Linked DNA regions of Homo sapiens. The protein of the gene in region 1 interacts with the protein of each later gene in a biochemical or structural test. Each region holds a gene or a part of one and is shown in the gene's direction. Other genes may lie near its edges. The genes, in order: NOTCH3, C8orf76, MPPED2, BTF3L4, SPTLC2, CPNE6 and MAML1.

Region 1 (2,277 bases):
TAGTCCCAGCTACTAGGGAGGCTGAGGCAGGAAAATCGCCTGAGCCCAGCAGGTAGAGGTTGCAGTGAACTGAGATTGTGCCAATGGACTCCAGCCTGGGTGACAGAACAAGACACTACCTCAAAAATAAATAAATGGATAAATAAAAACCACATGTGACTGACTACTGTATTGGATGTCACAACCCTAGGTTCAACTGAAGGAGGTCCACACAGCACCCCCTGTGTATAAACAGTCATGCACATGCACGCACACACACACACACACACAAACACACACACACAGACACAAAGTGCTTCCCCATTGCACAGAGTCATTTTGCAGATTTGCACACACATGGATCCAGACACAAGTACTTGGATATTCACGGCAGGCCTGCCTCCTCTACCCCTAGGCCACATTCTAGACAATTTCTGCCTCCCTGACATGGGGGCCCCAGGACAGGTGCCTGGTCCTGACCTCTCTCCCCTTCATCCTCCAGGGAAATCAGCCTTACACTGGGCTGCGGCTGTGAACAACGTGGAAGCCACTTTGGCCCTGCTCAAAAATGGAGCCAATAAGGACATGCAGGATAGCAAGGTGAGCCCCAGCCCTTGGTCCACTGGGTGTCAGCAGTGGCACAGTGCCATTGCAATCCAGCCTGGGCAACAGAGTGAGACTCTCTCAAAAAACAAAACAAAATAAAACCCCAAACATTGGATTAAAATATAATTTACTTTGGTGACTAAAGTTTTTGGGGGCCCCTTAAATTTTGTGCCTAATGGCTGGGTGTGGTGGTTCATGCCTATAATCCCAGCACTTTGGGAGGTCGAGATGGGTGGATTACTTGAGTTCAGGAGTTTGAGACCAGCCTGGCCAACGTAGTAAAACCCTGTCTCTATTAAAAATACAAAAATTAGCTGGGCGTAGTGGTGCACACCTGTAGTCCCAGCTGCTCGGGAGGCTGAGGCAGGAGAATCGCTTGAACCCGGAAGGCTGAGGTTGCAGTGAACTGAAATGGCGCCACTGCACTCCAGCCTGGGCGACACAGTGAGACTCTGTCAAAAAAAAAAAAAAAAAAAGACAAGAAAAAAAAAGTTATGCCTAAGGTGAGTACCTCGCTTAACTCACCCTAGTCCTGGCCTTGACCTCTGGCACTTAGTAGGTGATGGATGAATGTGGTTTAGAGGAAAGAACTTGTCCAGGCTCCCCCAGCACAGCCGGGATTTAACCCAGGTCTGTCAAGCTCCAGTGTACAAACTCATAGCTCTCGGGCTCCCCCAAGAGGCTGGAAGACTTTGCTACTGTTAGCTGGGGTTTCGCTGACCTCTGTGGGTTCTGGCCCCCCAGGAGGAGACCCCCCTATTCCTGGCCGCCCGCGAGGGCAGCTATGAGGCTGCCAAGCTGCTGTTGGACCACTTTGCCAACCGTGAGATCACCGACCACCTGGACAGGCTGCCGCGGGACGTAGCCCAGGAGAGACTGCACCAGGACATCGTGCGCTTGCTGGATCAACCCAGTGGGCCCCGCAGCCCCCCCGGTCCCCACGGCCTGGGGCCTCTGCTCTGTCCTCCAGGGGCCTTCCTCCCTGGCCTCAAAGCGGCACAGTCGGGGTCCAAGAAGAGCAGGAGGCCCCCCGGGAAGGCGGGGCTGGGGCCGCAGGGGCCCCGGGGGCGGGGCAAGAAGCTGACGCTGGCCTGCCCGGGCCCCCTGGCTGACAGCTCGGTCACGCTGTCGCCCGTGGACTCGCTGGACTCCCCGCGGCCTTTCGGTGGGCCCCCTGCTTCCCCTGGTGGCTTCCCCCTTGAGGGGCCCTATGCAGCTGCCACTGCCACTGCAGTGTCTCTGGCACAGCTTGGTGGCCCAGGCCGGGCGGGTCTAGGGCGCCAGCCCCCTGGAGGATGTGTACTCAGCCTGGGCCTGCTGAACCCTGTGGCTGTGCCCCTCGATTGGGCCCGGCTGCCCCCACCTGCCCCTCCAGGCCCCTCGTTCCTGCTGCCACTGGCGCCGGGACCCCAGCTGCTCAACCCAGGGACCCCCGTCTCCCCGCAGGAGCGGCCCCCGCCTTACCTGGCAGTCCCAGGACATGGCGAGGAGTACCCGGCGGCTGGGGCACACAGCAGCCCCCCAAAGGCCCGCTTCCTGCGGGTTCCCAGTGAGCACCCTTACCTGACCCCATCCCCCGAATCCCCTGAGCACTGGGCCAGCCCCTCACCTCCCTCCCTCTCAGACTGGTCCGAATCCACGCCTAGCCCAGCCACTGCCACTGGGGCCATGGCCACCACCACTGGGGCACTG
Region 2 (3,548 bases), on another chromosome or scaffold:
GGACTCACAGTTCTACATGGCTGGGGAGGCCTCACAATCATGGCAGAAGGTGAAGGAGGAGCAAAGTCACGTCTTACATGGCGGCAGGCAAAGAGAGTGTGTGCAGGGGAACTGCCTTTTATGAAACTATCAGATCTCCTGAGACTAACTACCATGAGAATAGCATGGGAAAAACCCACCCCCATGATTCAGTTACCTCCCACCAGGTCCCTCCCACAACATGTGGGGGTTATGGGAGCTGCAATTTAAGATGAGATTTGGGTGGGGACACAGCTAAACCATATCACTAGAATAGTGAAATCTTCTTTAATTCATTTAAATATTCATGTAATTCATTGGTCAGTTATAACATTACTTTCCACCTAGGAAAAAAAATCACCCCTATTCTGAATCCTTTTTTCTGTTATGTTTTCCTCCTTTCATTTCTTTATTTAACAAATAATTTCCAGAAAGCACTGCAGGAGTATTCCAGTATCTCTGAAAAATTGTCATCAACCAATTTTGCCATGAAAAGGGATGTCCAGGAAGGTCAGGCTCGGTGTCTGGCTCACCTGGGTAGGCATATGGAGGCGCTGGAGATTGCTGCAAACTTGGTGAGTGATTTTATTGCTTATTTTCACACACATTCCTATAAGGGTGGTCGAATGGTGTATTTTTTGAAAACAAAACAAACTTCTTGCTAGTAGCAAAATCTATGGGTTTGGATAAGCAGAAGAAAATTGTCAGGGGTGTGAGAGTTTTATTATGATGAACAACTTGGAACCTAGACATAATCATTTTCTTGTAATATTTTTCTTGTGTCATGCTCAAAATTCTGTATTGCCTGAAAATCTCCTTTGCAGAGGTTTTTCTCTTGTTAGGAGTAACATTCAGTGTGGAAGGACTATGAGTGATCTGTTTTCTTCGTTAGATTGTTTTTAGACGTTGTTCTCCAAAATTTCTACAATGAACAGTATTTTTCTAAGCCAAAAAAGGTCCCCCCCCCAAAATGACTAAATACTCATTACCAAGCCACACTTAGTAGTCCTTTTTATTTTTAAGTGGAATTTGCAGAATTTTTTTTTCTTTTTCCTTTTCCCCAGTCAACGAAAGGGACACTTTATGACACTTTATTGAGGCCCCAGGGCCATGAGGCCTGGGCAGGACGCCGCTCTTTGGGGAAGGAAGAGCCTTCTTTGTCCTTCGTCTTGGGGTACAGGTTGTTGGTGTGGCCGCGCTTCTTGCGGGAGTTGACAGCACGGGGTGGTGCAGGCGGGCACAGCACTTGCGGCAGATCATCTTGTTGTAGTTGTATTTCTGGGCGAGCTGGCGGAGGGAAGGCTCAGTAATGCCACCTCGCAGGCGCAGCACCAGGTGCAGGGTGGACTCCTTCTGGATGTTGTAGTCTGAGAGAGTGCGGCCATCCTCCAGCTGTTTGCCCGCAAGTATCAGACGCTGCTGGTCAGGTGGGATGCCCTCCTTGTCCTGAATTTTGGCGTTGCTGGGCTCGATCTCAAGGGTGATGGTCTTGCCTGTGAGGGTCTTCACAAAGATCTGCATCTCTGCATCTGGAGCTCGGCAGCCTCGCTGAAGAAAAAGGGAATTTTTCTTTCTTTTTTTTTTTTTTTGAGACAGAGTCTCACTCTGTCACCCAGGCTGGAGTGCAGTGGAGTGATCCCGGCTTGCCGCAACCTCCGCCTCCCGGATTCAAACGATTCTCCTGCCTCAGCCTCCTGAGTAGCTAGGATTACAGGCATGCACCACCACGCCCAGCTAATTTTTGTATTTTTAGTAGAGACGAGGTTTCACCATGTTGGTCAGGCTGGTCTCAAACTGACCTTGTGATCCGCCCGCCTCGGCCTCCCAAAGTGCTGGGATTATAGGCGTGAGCCACTGCACCCGGCCTTCTTTTTCTTTAAAAAAAAATTTTATTGCCTTTTTCCACACATTCTAAAGCGGAATTTTTTTTTAAGGGATAAAGAAAGGTAGTTCTTTCCAGTTCTAGATTTTATTGCTTTTGTTTCTAGGTTAAGGCATTATTTGTATTGATTGTTGTGTAAATTTTATATGGGAATTAGTCTAAATGGACTAGTTTTCTTCCTCGGAGGAAATTAAGGAGACACTGTGGCACCGATTTTGAGCTTTGTGGATGTACCGCCCAGCGATCAGATCAGCCTAACGTATGCACACAATTGAGCTGACATCTGCCATCTCATTAACTAAGAGAAATCCCTAACCTTTGTTTGCTTAAGCCTTCACTGCATAGGACCTCAGCCTCTTGCAATTCGAGGAAACTTTGGCAGTAATTGTTCTAAGAACATGGAAAACAGCTGTGTTTTGTTCTTTCTTTTCTGTTCTCTACTAATTGGGGGTTAGTGCTTAAGCTGAAAGATAGATAAATCGACTTCCTAAGCGTTTGCATGAGCAGTTAACTTGATGGGATTTCATTGTGTTCATTTCTAGTCTTCCCCAGTCCGCAAATTAACAGTGCTCTTGGCCCTTCCGGTGCCTTTCTGTAGCCTTTACTACTGTCCTGCTCGCTCGGCGTTTCTTGCACGTCACTGTTGTGCTTCCTCCTCCTCCTCTTTGATTGTTGAAGGTAGTGGCAGCTGGATTCCTGGCAGGGGTTGGGTCATCTCTGGTTCCTTCTAGCTTAGGGAATCTGTTTCGGTGGCTCAGAGAAGGATCTGTTGCCAATCAGCCGATGCCAGGTCTCCGGTGCTGGGGATGGTTACTAGGCAGGAGAAACACCAGTCAGAAAACCCTGGACTTTCAGAACTGTGCATCAGGCGTCCTGGCAACCTGTTGGGCAGGACTGTCAGGTGGAAAGCGGGCTCGTGGGGTTCGCCCCTTTCTGTCGGCTTCACACATGATCTCAGCGGACCTTGCGTGTCTGCACGGCATTCTCATTTCCTGGTAAGCTGTGTTTTGTTTTGTTTTTTAAAATTTCTTCTCTACCTGAGGACCCTCGCCTTTTGTTACTAGCTCTGGCCCATATCTGTTTTTTTGTGACGGTGGTTACTGTCTTTTCACATTCTGTAGGGGGACCTGTCGCAGTATGTAACATTGAACAAAATAGACAGCAAGTCCCGGGGTGGCCATCAAGATTCGAACATTTTCTGTTCACAATTTCTGCTGAAATTCATTCACCTCTTTTCATGATTTTTGGATAAAATTTATAGTAGGACTTATTTCTTAAATAATTACAACATTTTCTTATAGTGGTTGGTATTCCTGTGTGGTAACTGTGGTAAGAAAATGGCTTTCTGGTAGTAAGTGACTCCTTTTCATTTATCCACTCAGCACTCAACAAACATTTCAGTCCTACTATTTTCCTGGTTCTGGGTTCGATGCTAAGGAGACAAACAATATATCGTGTACATGCAGTGCTCATCTAGTGTCTGGTCGGTTTAGCCAGCGCACATATACATCAGCTCTTTTTTTCTTTTTGAGATGGAGTCTTGCTCTGTTGCCCAGGCTGGAGTGCAGTGGTGCGATCTTGGCTCACTGCAGCCTCCTCCTCCCAGGTTCAAGCAATTCACCTGTCTCAGCCACCCAAGTAGCTGGGA
Region 3 (2,863 bases), on another chromosome or scaffold:
GCTTTACTTGGAGAAATTTTAGCCAATGTGGAAAAAAGCCTTTTCAGTTACTTCTCTATATCTTGGTAATTTTATTTTTTTCACAGCTATGTTTTTATATGCGATAAGAGCCTGATACCAACATAGAATCTTAGTTGAAGAGGCTATAAGGCAAATATAAGGTATTCAGGGAAATGTGCCAACTTGCAAACATGCTAAACATTTTATCATATTGAAAATTATCAAAGGAACATATATACCAAAGACCTAGGGAAACAACTTTCTCCCAATAAATCACAAAAGGTTTATATTGCATATGGGAAGTGTTTTTGCTTGATCTAGTATCCAGGTAAGCTTAGGAAACAGTGACCTAGGGTGATGTTTCTACACATCACTTCGACATGTGATTAGCTGACACTTTTGAATGAAATGGAACTTAGTATTAAAGCCACACAATTCAAAAATCATATATGGTTGACTTTCGTAAAGGCAGTTAAGAGATTATTTCATAAATAAGTAAATTGAGTGTCTACATTTCTTAACTCTCAATGCAGTATCCTTTCCCCCCTCACCTGCCCCATATCCCACTTGGAATTTAGTTGTGTTTGCCCCTGAGGAGTAATCCTTATATTACTCATTTTATTCCCTAGAACTCAATAGTTAACACAAGGCTTTGAAATGAAAATCCTATTTTAAAAGGAGGAAAAAAGTTTTTCTTTATTCTCCCTAGTAAAGAAATCACAGCCCTTCTTCAACAAGTTTAGCATTTAAATAAAGAAAAAAAAATTGCTCTTAGTTGAAGGAGAAGATTCTACCATTTAAAGAAAATAGAGTAAAATTGGGCAGTAGCTTCTGAAAGTCATTATATCTGAGGAGGCTCAACTGAATTTCATCTCACTGCCCACTGACAAAAATTTTTTGTTTTCCTTGCCTGACAGCCCTACATTCCATCACTCTCATTTGTATATATTACAGTAAATGTGACACGCTCTCCCCACAGGTTATGGCATCATGACCGACGGTTACACAACGTACATCAATGCCTCGACGTGTACAGTCAGCTTTCAACCGACCAACCCTCCAATTATATTTGACCTTCCAAACCCACAGGGTTCCTGAAGCTCTAAATGCCCTATTGGAATGTGAGGGAAGGTCTATAAACTGCCATTTTTCTAATTATAAACTTACATTCTCTTACTTATTTACAAACCCTGTGAGTTCTTTTTGTAAATTGTTGGAACACAAATGATGCTAGAGGTTGTGCTTCTTATTTTATTTTATTTTAAATGGGGCATCCATTTGAAATCAGAGGAACATTGTGAATTTGTAAAATGACTTCTGTTTTCTCAAAGGCCATGCCATTGTAAATTGTTAGTGTTCGCCAAAGGACAGCCAAGCTTTCTTTTAAAAAGTGATAAAAGTCTTATTTTAATATGCTTTAAGCTGAAAGAAAAAAAAATAAGAAACAGGCAGTGTTTTAAAAACCAACACAGATTTGCACAACTGTTTAAGAGTATTGTTTGAAATATTTTAATTTTCAATGTTTTGTTGTTGTTGTTTTCTTGGTAATGCTTCTTTTTTGCAGATGTGGTCCCAATTTATAGCAATCTTCTCAACAGAAGTAGGCATGGAAAAGACTTCTTTTCATACTCTCACTATAAAGAAAGCTGCATTGAGAAGAAAATGGCTGTCATTTAAAGGATGGTTTAACTAGTGAGATTCCTATTGTGGTTATACAAGGTCTCATTGTTTGTTTGTTTCTTTTAAATTATTTCAGCTTTAAAAATACAGAAATGGAATCTGTCAAGAGCAGGTATTTCATACGGTTAAAAAAATGAACATGCAGACTCCTTTTCAATATGGGTTTATATATATAAGTATTTTTTGTGTATTATGACTACGTTAGGAGTTTATTATTGTCAAGGACAGTACAACTGCAAAGGGATGCTGTATAGCAACACATCAGAAGTCGGAAGGAACTGACACATTCTCTCAGAGCTCAAGGTCTTAAAGAGCTTGAGTTAAATCTAGGTACAGTTACAGGCATGTATAGACTTAAATGGATGCAATGGAAGCTAACTAAAATAAGGCTTAGTTGTCCTTTCTATTTAAATACCCCAAGTTGTCTTCTTACTTCCTCTCCCCTCTCCCATTTTGCACTGTGTGTCGATGCAATCTTCGCTAGCACAAAATATTGTCGCTAATAGTCATTTCTGTTTTCCCATTGTAAATGCTGTTGAGCTTTATTCTATTTTATGTTACTTTGTTAATGAAATTTAGGAAAGCAGTTGTTTCTTTAAATTTATTGTGATATTCTATATCTAGCGGCCTTTATATGCAAATAAAATTGCAAGATTTTTAAATTCGTGCTGTTTAGAGGGTTGGATGGTGGAGGATGGTAGTTTCGTCCTGGGGAAGGAGGGATTTATTCATATGCAACATCAGTAATGCCTTTCAGAAGAATTAGAATAAGTGATTTTTTTCCCTAATTTTCAATAAATTTTTATTACCCACCATTCACAGGCTGGCAGATAGATCGATAAGGCACTCAGTGTACTCTTTCCTTCCATCATGCTGTCATCTGTCTTGCCTTAGGTTTCATCTTTGGCTGTTGTAATTTCTACAGGAACAGAGAGACTGGAGTTAAGGCTGTGGATTTATTTTGGGCAAGTTTGTGATAGTGAGTTTGGGGAAACCGTTGATGACAGAGTAATCACTGCACATTCTCATTTTCCCCAAGAGCAGTCACCATCTCCTCCTCACTTTTGTAATGATGCCCACCCACAAAATGCTGTGGCAACCAAGAGGGGATAGCAGAAGGGTGGCGAAAACCAGAGAAAATAAAAAAGACATCACCCAGAAGAACCACTGAAGCAAAACAGCA
Region 4 (3,548 bases), on another chromosome or scaffold:
TGCTAGAGTCTAAGGCAGCAGTCCGCAATCTTTTTGGCACCAGGGACTGGTTTCGTGGAAGACAGTTTTTCCACGGATGGGAGGATGATGGTTTTGGGATAAAACTGTTCCACCTTAGATCATCAGGCATTAGTTAGATTCTCATGAGGAGTGCGCATCCTAGTTTCCTCGCATACGCAGCTCACAACGGTTCGCCCTCCTATGAGAATCTAATGCTGCCGCTGATCTGACTGGCTGTGGAGCCCAAGCAGTAATGCTCGCTCATGCCCCCTACCCCACCTTCTGCTGTGCTGCCGTGTTCCTAACAGGTCACAGACTGGTACTGGTCAGTGGCCTGGGGGTTGGGGACCTCTATTATATGGGATACAAATTTAGGAGTTGGAATTGACACGATTTAGTGACTGATGGGATATGGGGGGTAAAGGGCATGCAGAAGAATCTAGGATAACCCTCAGATTCATGATTTTAGAGACTTGAGTATATGGTGGTACCACCAGCTACAAAAGTTAGGAAATAAGAATAGATTGGTGGACTGATAAGCTTTAAGACATATTGAATTTGAGGTGCCTGAGGATCATTCGAGTTGAACAAGCACCAAGCAGTTGAGCTATCCCTGAGTCAGGAATGCTTCACAAATGAGTGCCTATGTAAATAGTCAGTCCTTCAGCAACTAGATTTCAAGGCATCCTCTGCTGTCAGATCTCTCCTCCACTCCCACCGGAATTGCTGAGACTGAAGCCCCTACCTTACCTCTATAAGGCTGATTCCCTGAGTACTACTATAGGAGCTACCCAGAGATTGAAACCACTATTCCTTTCTCCTTACTCCTACCAGTTTTAGAAAGATTTAACCCTCAAGACTTAATAAACTGATCCAGGAATCCATTATTTTAAATAGTATTTCAATGGAAAAATGTATTTAGAGTTTCACAGTATCAATTTAGAAATGAACTTTTTCTTTCTCAGTAACTAGTATAATTTTCAACCTGTTTGCTCAGGCCAAGATTCTAAGCATCATCCAAATGTCCTCTTTTTCTCATATCCCACGTGTAATCCATCAGCAAAGTCATGTGGTCTCTTGTGAGAATCTGACCCCTCACCATCTTCACTGCCATATCCCTCATCTCTGGCCAGGACGGCTACAGGAGCCTCCTGACTGGTCTCTTTATAATCCATTTTCTACATAGCAACTTCAGTCATAAGTAATCAGATCAAGTCACTCCCATGCTTAAAACCTTTCAATGGCTTCCCATTGCAATCAATAAAATCTAGCTCCTGCCCATGGCATTCTAGGCTACATAATCTGGTCCTTGCCTATCTTTCTGATTTCATATTCCTCTTCCGTTCCCATTATTCACTCTGCTCTAGCCATACTGGCCCATTTTCTCTCTTCTAGAAAGGACAAGTTCAACCTTGTTTCATTCTGCTTTGATCATTCTTGCCCTAGTTATGGGTCTCAACTCATATGTTACCTCTTCAGAGGGGGCTTTCCTGGACCTTCTAATAAAGTATTGCTTTGCCCCTACTTAGTCATTCTTGCTGTGCTCTAGTTTTGCTTTTTTCTTAATAGTACTTAATCCCATTTGAAATTATCTGATTTGTTTATATATTTATTGATTTTTTTCCTCCTACTGTAATGTAGACATTAATTTTCAGTTATGTCCTAATTCCCCAAATTTCAGAATATCTTTAGACTACTGGCAGGGGGTGGTAGTTACTATAAGAAAAGATAATGTTTTAAAATTGTTATAAAGTATTTAAATTGTCTTGAAGTTATAAATTATGTTTTATTAGCAAACAGTATCTTGTGTTGAAATGACAAAGGCTGGATATTAGATAAGAATAATTCAACCTGAAAAAGCTGATAAGGAAAAAAAAGGAACTGGCTAGAACCAACCTTTAGAAATCTGCGTTAGGCTGACAATCACAACCTCTGAGAAGTCTTATAACATTAATCATTATTATTTTGTCCATTTTTTAATGTGGGTTTTAGATTATTGTGATACGTAAGATGTGATTGCAGTTGCCAGATGCCAGGCATGCTAACACTTCTGCTTCTGTTTGGTTATTTTTCAGGGTACAGCTCGCAGAAAGAAGAAGGTGGTACATAGAACAGCCACAGCTGATGACAAAAAGCTTCAGAGTTCTCTAAAAAAACTGGCTGTGAATAATATAGCTGGTATTGAAGAGGTATGATCACTTTGCAAGTTGTTAAATTGTGTGGGTACATGCACAAATAATTGTCTGGACCTTTCAGATGTAAAATATCAGCTTAGAAAAATCTTTGATATTGTCACTCTGATGTCTTTGAAGGACTGTGGCACTTTGATTTTTGTATGAAATTAAATGATGGTCAAAAAAATAATTTTAGTAGACAGTTAAGGATTTTCATCATACTTTTCAAGCTCAAGATATTTGCGTATATGGCAAAATTATGTAAGTGTTCTTGAATATTAATATAAAATATGTCTCTAATAATGTAGAAATAAACCCCAACATTTCCTCAGATGAGATAGACCTTTTTTTTTTTTTTTTGAGATGGAGTCTCACTCTGTCACCCTAGCTGGAATGCAATGGCACGATCTTGGCTCACTGCAACCTCTGCCTCCCGGGTTCAGACGGTTCTCCTGCCTCAGCCTCCCAAGTAGCTGGGACTACAGGTGCGTGCCACCATGCCCGGCTGATTTTTGTGTTTTTAGTAGAGACGGGGTTTCACCATGCTGGCCAGGCTGGTCCCAAACTCCTGACCTCAGATGATCCGCCTGCCTCGGCCTCCCAAAGTGCTGGGATTACAGGTGTGAACCACCGCGCCCGGCCAGACTTTTTTTTATTATTTAAGATTTTGGACTCATGGCTCAATAGAGGTAGACTTTTTTACCCTAATGCACCTGTATATTTTACAGAGCCTCATTAGTTACTACCTCAGCCAAAAGGCTTTAGCAGTAGCTTTACATGGGTTAGATTTCTTATTAAAACTGTTTCAAAAATTGTTTAAAATGTATTAGTCAGCCGGGTGCAGTGGCTCACGCCTGTAATCTCAGCACTTTGAGAGGCCTAGGCAGGCAGATCATCTGAGGTCAGGAGTTCAAGAGCAGCCTGGCCAACATGGTGAAACCCTGTCTCTACTAAAAATACAAAAATTAGCTAGCTGTGGTGGCACATGCCTGTAATCCCAGCTACTCGGGAGGCTAAGGCAAAAGAATCACTTGAACCCAGGAGGCGGAGGTTACGGTGAGCCAAGATTGTGCCATTGCACTCCAGCCTGGGTGACAGAGTGAGCATCCGTCTCAAAAAAAAAAATTGTATGTCAGTTTATTGTATTTTGATGACACTATTTTTCTCAAATATGAGACCAAAGATTAATGTTATTCCAGAAGATACTTAATAAATAACAACAACTACTTGTGATGTTACCACCTAGATGCACCTCTGCCTGATGATTCCATTTGTTTTTTTGTTTTTTAAGACAGAATCTCACTCTGTCACCCAGGCTAGAGTGCAGTGGTGTGATCTCTGCTCACTGCAACATCTGCCTTCTGGGCTCAAGAA
Region 5 (3,548 bases), on another chromosome or scaffold:
AAACAAAACAAAACAAAACCTCAGTTAGATACCATTTCACACCACTAGGATTGCTAAAATAATAAACCAGGTATTAAGTGTTCATGAGGATATAGAGAAATTAGAATCCTGATACATTGCTGGTGGGATTATAAAATGATGCAGCCACTTTAGGAAACAGTTAAACATAGAGTTAGCATGTGGCCCAGTAATTCTACTCCCAAGAAAAATGAAACATATGTTCCTGCAGAAACTTGTATATTAATTATAATAGCAGCATTGTTGATTGATTGATTGATTGATTCAGGGTGTTACTGTTACCCAGGCTGGCAGGACATGGCTCACCGCAGCCTCCACCTCCTGGGCTCAATCAATCCTCCCACCTCAGCCTCCCAAGTATCTGGGACTGCAGGCATATGCCACCATGAGTGGCAAAATTTTTTTTTTTTTGAGACAGAGTCTCACTCCGTTGCCCAGGCTGGGGTGCAGTGTGGCTCACTGCAACCTCCACCCCACTGGTTCAAGCAGTTCTCCTGCCTCCGCCTTCCGAGTAGCTGGGACTACAGGCACATGCCACCACGCCCAGCTAATTTTTTATATTTTTAGTAGAGATGGGGTTTCACCATGTTGGTCAGGCTGGTCTCAGACTCCTGACCTAAGTGATCCATCCGCTTCGGACTTCCAAAGTGCTGGAATTACAGGCGTGAACCACTGTGTCTAGCCCCACGTTATTTATAATAGCCAAAAAGTAGAAACAATCCAAATGTCTATCAACTGATGAGTAGATAAAATATGGTATATCCATATAAAAGGATATTATTCAGCAATACTACTGAAGGAATGCAGTACTAATACATGCAGGAGAATACTACATTGTTTATGGCCATGTGTTTATATAGTGAAAGTATTTAAAAATACAGGGGAATGATAAACACCAAATTCCCAATTCTTCTGAGGAGGAAAGGAAATATAGCATTTCCCCAGGACAGACTTCTTAAAAGGATTGGAGAACTACTTAAACATGTCAGATCTTGACACTGTCCTGATGGCCTCCTGTCACTAATAACAGAATACAAAATGGGGTTTACAAGGCCCACCATGAACTTTCCCATCCCTCTCTGACTTCATATCCTGCCAGGTCACTGCTTTCTAGCCAATCCGGGCTTTCTGATGTTCCCCAAACACATTGCCATCAAGCACCCCTCCCTGGGGCCTTATTATTATTATTATTATTATTATTATTATTATTATTATTATTTTGAGATGGAGCCTCAATCTGTCACCCAGGCTGGAGTGCAGTGATGTGATCTCGGCTCACTGCAACCTCCGCCTCCAAGTTCAAATGATTCTCCTGTCTCAGCCTCCCAAAGTGCTGGAATTACAGGCGTGACCTACCACGCCTGGGGTCCCTGGGGCTTTAGCCTTTACAGTTACCTCAGCCTGGAAAGCTTTTTCACAGAGTTCTCTTCCCTACTCCAAGTCCATCTGCTTACACCTTACCTCCACCCTGTTTAAAATGCTCTTTTTCCACGATTTTATTCTGATTGTAGCAGTGTGATCTGATACAGTATATCTATTTGCTTATCTGTTGTCTGCCTCTCTCACAGGAGTGTATTTCTAGTGCTCAGATCATGCCTAGCTCATAGCAGGGACTCAATAAGTATTGAATGAATAACTTTAATGTTTTATTTAATGGAAAAAAGATCTAAAGCATATAAGCTAAATCTTAAGTTTTGATAAAGCTAGATGTTGAATACAGTTTTATTTCTATTTTTTTGATGATAATTACTGTGTCATATTTCATACATACTCTGCTGGTTGACAAAAACTAGCTCCCTAAAATAATGTTACAGACATAAGTAAGAAATGGATTGTGGTGACACATAAGCTGTTAAAGAAACCCGTAGCCTAATTTATAGTGTATCAGGTTTGCAAGTGGTTTAAAACAATAGCGGTTTACTGAATGTTCTTACTAGCGTGAGGGGAGAGCTTGTGAGAAGTAGGAAGAGGCCAGAGAAGGTCCTGGGGTCTGGCACACTCTGATATGCTTCATCACCTCTCCCTAAGCTCTCCCTACAGGGCAGTGGGGCCAGTGGTGACTTTTGCGGCACCCTCTCCATTGTCTTACCAAGGGCTTCAGCTGTGAGACGCCGGTTGGTGCTACAAGGAAGGGGAAACGTGTCAGCTCTTTCCTCTGCTCTTTTCTCACATTGATTTCAAATGCCAAGAAGCTGGGCTGAGAAACCGGGCTTGTGATCCTGGTTGTACTGCAGTCCACCATGTGCTGGAGAGCTCTGCAGGTTGTGCTAAAGGGTAGTGTCTTTATTGCCTCCTGTATAAGCTTGACTTTTACATAGGCAAGCAGGTTATTTCCAGGACAACTAAATTAGTTGGTGCGAAACCTCATTTCCTAGAAACCCATTTTCTTAGTAGAGGAAACCCATATAACCATTTGTCTCCATGTAAGTGTAGCTAATAACATGAATAACAAAAATAGCTAATTATTTAAATAGCAAAAATAAGTATGGAAGATGAATTTGCAGTAAAATTCTAATATTAAGCCACTGATTATTTTAAAACAATCAGATTAAGTTGTAGTACCTCTGAAATAATTAAAGGAAAATTTGATTCTTAGAAAATCTCAATTCATTGGAAAGCCATGGAATTAATAAAATAAAAAAAGAAAATCTCAGGCAATATAAACTAAGGAATGGCAAATGGAAAATGTATTGATTGGTGGAAAAGTAATTGCGGTTTTTGACATTGAAAGTAATTACTTTTGCCATTACTTTTAATGGCGGAAACCATTTAATGGCAATTACTTTTGCACCAACCTATAAATAATTGGACTCTAGTTCCAACTTTGATATTTAGCTTTCCCATGACTGTTGACAAATTGCTTAATCTACTTTCCTTGATTTTGTCAGTCAAATGAGGAGGAAGAGACAGCTTGAGAAACATTTGTAAGAGAAATGCTTATTACTTTGTATGTGTTTTTCGTCTTACATATTAAATATAAATTCCTTTAGGTGATATTCTTTAAAATGATTTCCTTACTTCCTTTTATATTTACATCCATTTTCTCTTAAAAAAACAAACAAACAAAATACTGCACAATTCTTGAAGACAAGGATTACCTCTTACCTCTTATTTGTTTCATGAAATATAGAGTACAATTTTTTTTTTTTTTGAGATGGGTCTTGTTCTATCACCCAGGCTGGAGTGCAGTGGCGCCATCATGGCTCACTGCAGCTTCAACCTTCTGGGCTCAGGAGATCCTCCTATCTCAGCCTCCCCAGTAGCTGGGACTACATTCATGCACCACCACATCCGGCTAACTTTTGAAAATGTTGTGTAGAGATAGGGTTTCACTATGTTGTCCAGGCTGGTTTTAAACTCCTGGGTCCAAGCAATCCTCCCGCCTTGGCCTCCCAAAGTGTTGGGATTACAGGCGTGAGCTCCTGTGCCCAGCCTAGAGTACAGTTCTTGACATATAGATAGAAATTAAGTATTTGTAGAATGAGTGGAAAAAAAAATGAAATGATTATGTTGATTTTGAGTTTCTCGGT
Region 6 (4,099 bases), on another chromosome or scaffold:
GTCACGCTTCATTGCGTATGCGTATTGGCTTATCCTCTCTCTGTCTGCCTGTCTTTCTGTTCCATATACATCTGCCTCCCCCAGGGGCAGAGGCTGTGTCTTAATCACCTGTGTAGCCCCAGCACCTGGCACAGTGCCTGACACCCAGGAGATGCTCAATAAATGGCTGCTATATTAATACATGAGCAGCTTAAGGGGATGGAGGGCGAAGGTAAATGCTCTTGCGTACTCATCGCAGACCACAATGTGCCCAAATGTCTTCATGTGTGGTTTGCAGCTCCCCAGGCAACTGCTTACTTCCCTTACTTACTGATTTCACCAGGAATTACTTGTTTTGTTTCCTTAAGATCTGTGCATGGCACAGCCCCTCCCACAAGGGTAAGGCCATATGGGTTGAATCTTGGGGGGTGTTGGGTACATTGTGGCACCGGGAAGAAGCCTTGGGAGTCAGTCCTTCAGCAGATGCCCTCATGTGACCAGGATATGAGGTTGGGTGTCCTTAAGCAATTATGTCCATTTCCTGTGTCTCCTTATAAAATGGTGGCTAGGGAACTGGACATCATTCTCAAAGCTATGACGTTCAGCAAGGTATGTGATGGCTTTTAAGGAGCACGGGAAGATCACATCCTGCTGTATTCCGGGTTAGTTTGAGTGAGTACATGTGTGACAAGGACAGCCCAGTGTTCCTGTATATGTGACTGCAGATATCCTTAGCTAGTGTAACAATGTTGAAAGTGATGTGAGAAGGGGTATGTTTCCCAATGTGTATCCGCCGGGGGCTGTAACTGTCGTGGTGTCACAGTGAGTTTATGTACTGGCGCCTGTGTGTGTCAAGATATGTGTGAGCCTGTGAGTCGTGGGTGCATGTGTCGCCATCATTTCTCTGTTTGAATGTGTATGTGCATGCCACTGCAATGTGCGCATCTCTGCGATTCTGGGTGTGGGTGTAGTGTGAAGGGGAAGATGTGTGTCACTGTGTCTGTGGGGGTCCTGCCTCTAAGCCACCCCCAGCCTGCCCTCCTCCCCCGGTTCTGTGGCTCCCTCCCAGGCTGTGGCCCTGCCCCTTCCCTCTTCTCCCTCCCAATCCATCCACGCGGGGGGAGCTGGTGCTGCGCCCCCCCCCACCCCTCCCCATCCAGGCCCCATAAATAGCAGCAGAGCCGGAGCTGGAGCCGGCGCCAGCGGCTGGAGCAGCAAGGGAGTCAGGGCCAGGGCCAGAGAGCCGGAGAGAGGAGCCCCCGACCGAGAGCCCAGGTGAGCCCACCCTTCCTCCCCAGCCCAGCCCCAGCCCAGCCCAGCTTGGCCCAGTCTCCATAACAACATCTCCTGGAGCCCGCAGAGAGATCCCAGCCCTGCCCAATCCCTTCACCACCACAAGCCCCTGCCTATCTCGGGGACCCCCAAGAACTGGGAGACTTGTGGCTGGAAGGCAGAGACCCCCCTCCCCCAGCCCAGACCCTCCCTCACATATCCAGAAAGGCACACACTGTGGGGAGGTAGATACCCAGCCAGAGAAAGGTCCCACTTCTGAGGGAGGTACAGGAACTGTCACACCCTCCTGGAAACGGACACACGACATGGGGGGACAGACACGGAGGGTGGGGCACTCAGACACACCAATGCACACTCACTCGGGGAAGCATGACATGGGATCAGACAGCCTCACCCTGAGATCTGTACAGACACAGATAGATGGACTGACCGGCCATGAACTCTGGCCGGCATACCCCTGCCTGCTTCAGCCCGAGGCTTGGTACCACTGCTGGGGGAAGGTGGCATGCGTGCATCCCACGGGCAGCATGGAGGGAGCCACGACTCCCCAAAAATCCTGTCGCTAAGAGACGGTGCCAGTGCTGCCAAGAAGTGTGAAAACAGGGGAGGTGGGGAGGGATGTGAGGCTTGTCACAGTTAGAGCTCCTGCCAGGAGCCTGAAGGAGCTTTCAGCAGAGCCCTGGTCCTGCCTCCCAGCCCACCACCACTCCTTTTCCATCAGCTAGCCAGAAGGGGAATGGGGGTAGGGAGTGGATAGGGATAGCCCAGCAGGGGACTTTCCAACCTGTCTCCTGCCCACTGCAGACTCCACTTCTGAGACCCATCCTCTTCAGAACTCCAGAGGCCTCTCCACCCCCTGCCCCACCCCCTTGCCCTAGTTTAGCTCCCTCGTGCCAAGACTGAGTGCAGCGCTGGCACAACACCAGTCGGGAAATAGCAGAAGGTGCTGAGGCGGCAGAAAGTGTAGATCAATCGATGGCCTAGGAGCCAAGACTGCCAGGAACATCCCCACCCCAATCCTTCAGCCCTCTCCAGCCCCATCCACGCATACCTAGGCCAGCAGCACAGGGCTTCTGAGCAGGAGTGGGAGGCTCAGGTCCTCTGCCCTCCCCTGCTCAGAACTCTGGTGAAGCTGAGGAAGCAGGAGGTCCGTGAGGCCCCAGGGTCTAGGGAAGGAGGTTAAGGGGTGGGGCCCAGGGACCCTAGAGGATAGACCCCTCTGCTGGCAGGTGTTCCCTTTCCAGAGTCCAGGCCACCTGCTCTGTCCCCACAGTGACATGTCGGACCCTGAGATGGGATGGGTGCCTGAGCCCCCAACCATGACGCTGGGGGCCTCTCGGGTGGAGCTGCGGGTGTCCTGCCATGGCCTCCTGGACCGGGACACACTCACCAAACCCCACCCCTGCGTGCTGCTCAAGCTCTACTCTGATGAGCAGTGGGTGGAGGTGAGAGCAGCTCAGGTTTCTCCTTAACTAACCTGGGTTAAGCTTGGGAAAGAGGGAGGCTGGGTGGGAGCAGTGAAAGCCTTGCAGGGAAATGTGTGGACTCTGCGGCGCCTTCTCGAGGCCGCTTGGGTACCCTGGAGATGGTGTCCCAGAGGGTCCTGAGATTGACCCAGAGGCAGTGGGGTTGCTCCCAAAGGCCTCATGATAGCCCGGAGGACTGAGAGTCCAGTGGGCAGGCAGCACCCCAAGCTCAGGGATCAGCTTAGGAAGAGAAGAGCTGGTTGCTGGGGACGTGGGGGCCCAAGAAGAGCTGGCATGACTAGGGCAGTCCAGGACAGGGAAAAGTATCCTCGGTTCCCAGACAGCCCTCGCCTCCCTTCAACCACTACCACAGGTAGAGCGCACAGAGGTGCTTCGCTCCTGTTCCAGCCCTGTCTTCTCCCGGGTGCTGGCCCTTGAGTATTTTTTTGAGGAGAAGCAGCCCCTGCAGTTCCACGTGTTCGATGCCGAGGACGGAGCCACCAGCCCCCGAAATGATACCTTCCTCGGCTCTACGGAGTGCACCTTGGGCCAGGTCTGCATTCCCGGCCTCCCCGGCTACCCTACCCTACCTCCATCAGCTTTGCCTCTGGAAGCCAAAAAGAGAGAAAACATGAGCTCTAGAGCTAGTTCAACCCAGCCTTGGCTCCCATCTCTGCCATTCACTAGCTGTGCAGCCTCAGGAAAGATACTTAACCTCTCTGAGTCTTAGTTTTCCTATCTAAAAAATGGAGGAGTGGTCAGAGTGCTTCCCTCTTCAGACTATTGTAAAAATTGAGCCCAACCCTAGCCCAACTCAAAGTGCCAACCCTTGCAGACACTCAGAGCATTTATTATTCCATCCCTTGTACGTGGCCAAGGCAGATGGGGATGTCACAGCTGGGTCTCCCTCCACCTCCATCCCCAGATTGTGTCACAAACCAAGGTCACTAAGCCATTATTGCTGAAGAATGGGAAGACTGCGGGCAAGTCCACCATCACGGTAGGCAAGATCACCTGTACTCACCCTTGGTCCAGGTATTCAATGCCCCTGCATGGACACCTATGGTGACATCATGCCCAGGACCACCCCCACCTAAGGGAAAGGGGATGGGGTGGCCCTTGTGGTAAGGTTAGGGGAGTCCTGCCACTTGTATCCCCCTTGCAGATCGTGGCCGAGGAGGTATCAGGCACAAACGACTATGTGCAACTCACCTTCAGAGCCTACAAGCTGGACAACAAGGTTGGAACCCCAGAGTCCAGGCCCCCAACTCCCCTGTCACTCCTAGGCCTCCCACTCAAGACAGATCCCAGGAGCCCAGGCCTGCTCTCTTCCCAGTGGGAGCCCATCCCCCACCCTCCTT
Region 7 (3,548 bases), on another chromosome or scaffold:
TTGTAATACATGCTAAAATTTTGCAAATTAAAAAGCCCAGTGCCGGTAATATCATGAGGAAATAGACACACTCCTGTATTGATGAGAGTGTGTAAATGAGCTCACTGCTTTTGGGAAGTCATTTGACATTATGTATTTTTCACATGCTGTAAAATGTTCATATGCATTGACACACTATATACCCGACAAGTTGATCTAAAGAAATAATCCAAAATAAAAGAAAAAGTTATATCCAAGATATTCATTGTGTGGTTATTTCTAATAGCCAAAAACTGTAAGCCATTTAAGCATCTCCCAGTGCTGATAATTCCACTTACTTCAGCCAGTAAGATGTCTCACGCCGTTCAGCACCCCCTGAAGAGAGGCTCAGCTGCACACAGTGAGGGTGCTTGCCATCTGGGTAGCACTTTGCAACTTACGAAGCACTCTCAGTAGTTCTTAAGCTTCTGGTGATTAGAGTGAAGAAATTATACCAGAATCTTAGAATGAATAACTAGAAAGGAGCTCAACAATTTGAACTGGTTTAAATAATGATTGCTTTTTGCCTATCTTCTGCTAAGTTCCCCTTTTCTTCTAAGTGTCAGTAATGACGGGATAATATTGTGGTGGCCTTTGACATGACTCTCACTTGTGGTCTATATATTGACAGAGAATATCTGTTAAAGTTCTCATTGATTCTCAGTATTTTTTGAGGATGGGTATTTGACAAAAGCTAAGCAGTCTCTTCCAGTAAAATGCTTGCGCAGATGTACAGTTTCGGGTCGTTCAGGGATAGCCCGAAATCCAAGGTTTATGCACATGGGACAGAGTGGTCTCCATTGACCAAAGCCCCCTTCAAAGTGTTCTTCCCCTAGGCCGGGTGCAGTGGCTCATGCCTGTAATCCCAGCACTTTGAGAGGCCGAGGTGGGTGGAGCACCTGAGGTCGGGAGTTCGAGACCAGCGTGACCAACATGGAGAAACCCCCATCTCTACTAAAAATACAAAATTAGCCAGGTGTGGTGGCACATGCCTCTAATCCCAGCTACTCAGGAGGCTGAGGCAGGGGAATCGCTTGAATTCGGGAGGCAGAGGTTGCGGTGAGCCAAGATCGTGCCATTGCACTCCAGCCTGGGCAACAAGAGCGAAACTCCGTCTGAAAAAAAACAAAAAGTATTCTTCCCCTATTGGCCCGCTCTGCACTCAGATGTCCTGATAAGTGAGCATTTCTAAGCCTCGATTGCTTACTGGAACTATTGTGTGCAAATATGAAAGCTTACATATGCTTAACGTAAAACCATACCTTTGTCACTGGTGAATCACTGGGAGTAAAACTAACACCTATGGAGTAATTGTTCGTTGCTAGGCGCCTGTATGCTCAGATGTCATCACTTTTGGTCTGTGCTCCAGCCCTGTGGGATGGTTGTTATTCGAGGTCAGAAGGGAAGCAGAGACTTGGCTTCAAGAGAGTGAACCTTGAATTCACTGGATGGAGCTTATTTGGTCTGATCAGAGCTTAGAGACTTCACAGTCCCCTATCTGTGTTGACAGGAGCAGAACCCTTCCAGTGTCCCTGTGCAAGCCCAGGCTACCAGTGTTGGGACCCAGCCGCCTGCCGTGTCCGTGGCCAGCTCCCACAACAGCTCCCCCTATCTCAGCAGCCAGCAACAGGCCGCTGTAATGAAGCAGCATCAGTTGCTTTTGGACCAACAGAAACAAAGGGAGCAGCAGCAAAAGCATTTACAGCAACAGCAGTTCCTTCAGAGGCAACAGCACCTTCTCGCGGAACAGGTAAAAAGAAAAGTGGAAGGAAACCACCGCTTCCCACCTTTGCCTGCACCCTGCGTCACTGCTACAGTCACACCTTCTGCTTGTGCGTGTGGATTTGCGCAGACTTGCGTGCCTGTTGTTAGAGTGCTTTGCCTTTTAAAAACATCTTTCCAGGAATGTGGCATTTCTCAGACAGGGGTAGTCTTGTCAGAAGCTGCTTCGTGTCACTTAGTGGAGAGTACTCAAGGCAGACTCGGGGGCTAAAACTGTTTGTGGAAGGGACATTTTCCTATGTTTCAGGTCAGCAGCTTCCAAGCCACTGAGCTCACGTGTCTGTCATTCCACTATGGAGTCAGCTTTGCTGCCACTACAGAGCCTGTTATAAGCCAGAACGTGAAGAGGGAAGTGAAGTCATCCCTGAGGGAAACACAGTTCACTCGCTTGGTTAGCAAGTGTAGTGTGCAGGCACTAAGGGTTACAAGTGAGAGTTCTTTTTTTTTTTTGGAGACAGAGTCTTGCTGTCACCCAGGCTGGACTGCAGTGGTGCGATCTTGGCTCACTGCAGCCTCCACCTCATGGGTTCATGCAATTCTCCTGCCTCAGCCTCCCGAGTAGCTGGGACTACAGGCAAGAACCACCATGCCTGGCTAATTTTTGTGTTTTTAGTAGAGATGGGGTTTCACCACGTTGGCCAGGCTGGTCTTGAGCTCCTGACCTCAAGTGATCCACTCATCTCGGCCTCCCAAAGTGCTGAGATTACAGGCGTGAGCCACCACGCCTGGCCTTAAATTACATCTTTAAGACATAAGAACTGGCTCCAGACAGTGAGGTTCATTGAGGACAATCCCTGCCTCAGTTCTGCCTTTAAGAAAAGCAGCTTTATTGTGATGTAACTCACACAGCATACACTTCACCCACGTAAGTGAACAATTTAGTCATTTTTAGTATATCACAGAGTTGTGCAACCATTACCACAATCCATTTTAGAACATTTTCATTACCCTAAAACAAATCCCATACCCATGAGCAGCCATTCTCCCATCCACCCTGCCTCTCCAGCTCCTGATCTACTTTCTGTCTCTATAATTGTCTGCTCTGGGCTGGGCGCAGTGGCTCACTCCTATAATCCCAGCACTTTGGGAGGCCGAGGTGGGCGGATCACGAGGTCAGGAGATCAAGACCATCCTGGCTAACACAGTGAAACCCCGTCTCTACTAAAAATACAAAAAATTAGCCAAGTGTGGTGACGGGCGCCTGTAGTCCCAGCTACTCGGGAGGCCGAGGCAGGAGAATGGCGTGAACCTGGGAGGGGAGCTTGCAGTGAGCAGAGATCGCGCCACTGCACTCCAGCCTGGGCGACAGAGCAAGACTCCATCTCAAAAAAAAAAAATTGTCTGTTCTGGACATTTTATATTTATGTTATGTCATTTTCAATCATGTGCTAGGTAACAGCAATTGATTCCTCTTGATAATAATATTCCATTGTATGGACATGTTACATTTTATTCATTCGTCTGTTCATGAACATTTGGGTTTCTTGTTTGGGCTGTTAATGAGTATTGCTGCTATGAACATTCATGTACAAGTTTTCATATAGACATCTGTTTTCATTTTTCTTGGGTAGATACCTGGGAGTGGAATTGCTGGATCACATGGTAATTTTTATGTTTAACCTTTGGAGGAACTGTCAGACTGTTTCCCACAGGCTGTCTCATTTTACATTCCCACCAGCGGTGTATGAGGGTGCTGATTTCTCTACATCCTCACCAACCACTTGTTATCATCTGACTTTGATTCTGGC

What was found.
Region 2: the proteins of NOTCH3 (region 1) and C8orf76 form a complex in vitro, tested with the Homo sapiens proteins (one study listed by BioGRID).
Region 3: the proteins of NOTCH3 (region 1) and MPPED2 form a complex in vitro, tested with the Homo sapiens proteins (one study listed by BioGRID).
Region 4: the proteins of NOTCH3 (region 1) and BTF3L4 form a complex in vitro, tested with the Homo sapiens proteins (one study listed by BioGRID).
Region 5: the proteins of NOTCH3 (region 1) and SPTLC2 form a complex in vitro, tested with the Homo sapiens proteins (one study listed by BioGRID).
Region 6: the proteins of NOTCH3 (region 1) and CPNE6 form a complex in vitro, tested with the Homo sapiens proteins (one study listed by BioGRID).
Region 7: the proteins of NOTCH3 (region 1) and MAML1 form a complex in vitro, tested with the Homo sapiens proteins (one study listed by BioGRID).

Annotation. Positions count from the first base shown.
Region 1 is NC_000019.10:15,160,767-15,163,043, reverse strand, and holds part of NOTCH3 (neurogenic locus notch homolog protein 3 precursor), read left to right. Parts: intron 1-481; coding exon 482-579; intron 580-1,329; coding exon 1,330-2,277. UniProt on the Homo sapiens protein: Functions as a receptor for membrane-bound ligands Jagged1, Jagged2 and Delta1 to regulate cell-fate determination.
Region 2 is NC_000008.11:123,234,843-123,238,390, reverse strand, and holds part of C8orf76 (uncharacterized protein C8orf76), read left to right. Parts: intron 1-449; coding exon 450-593; intron 594-3,548. Other genes in the region: ZHX1-C8orf76 (zinc fingers and homeoboxes protein 1), read left to right, coding at 450-593.
Region 3 is NC_000011.10:30,409,703-30,412,565, reverse strand, and holds the end of MPPED2 (metallophosphoesterase MPPED2), read left to right. Parts: intron 1-979; coding exon 980-1,098; 3' UTR 1,099-2,342; downstream 2,343-2,863. UniProt on the Homo sapiens protein: Displays low metallophosphoesterase activity (in vitro). May play a role in the development of the nervous system.
Region 4 is NC_000001.11:52,062,750-52,066,297, forward strand, and holds part of BTF3L4 (transcription factor BTF3 homolog 4), read left to right. Parts: intron 1-2,075; coding exon 2,076-2,189; intron 2,190-3,548.
Region 5 is NC_000014.9:77,606,609-77,610,156, reverse strand, and holds part of SPTLC2 (serine palmitoyltransferase 2), read left to right. Parts: intron 1-3,548. UniProt on the Homo sapiens protein: Component of the serine palmitoyltransferase multisubunit enzyme (SPT) that catalyzes the initial and rate-limiting step in sphingolipid biosynthesis by condensing L-serine and activated acyl-CoA (most commonly palmitoyl-CoA) to form long-chain bases.
Region 6 is NC_000014.9:24,070,388-24,074,486, forward strand, and holds the start of CPNE6 (copine-6), read left to right. Parts: upstream 1-1,254; intron 1,255-2,545; coding exon of another isoform or gene 2,546-2,549; coding exon 2,550-2,717; intron 2,718-3,111; coding exon 3,112-3,291; intron 3,292-3,663; coding exon 3,664-3,738; intron 3,739-3,903; coding exon 3,904-3,978; intron 3,979-4,099. UniProt on the Homo sapiens protein: Calcium-dependent phospholipid-binding protein that plays a role in calcium-mediated intracellular processes. Binds phospholipid membranes in a calcium-dependent manner. Plays a role in dendrite formation by melanocytes.
Region 7 is NC_000005.10:179,767,322-179,770,869, forward strand, and holds part of MAML1 (mastermind-like protein 1), read left to right. Parts: intron 1-1,528; coding exon 1,529-1,768; intron 1,769-3,548. UniProt on the Homo sapiens protein: Acts as a transcriptional coactivator for NOTCH proteins. Has been shown to amplify NOTCH-induced transcription of HES1. Enhances phosphorylation and proteolytic turnover of the NOTCH intracellular domain in the nucleus through interaction with CDK8.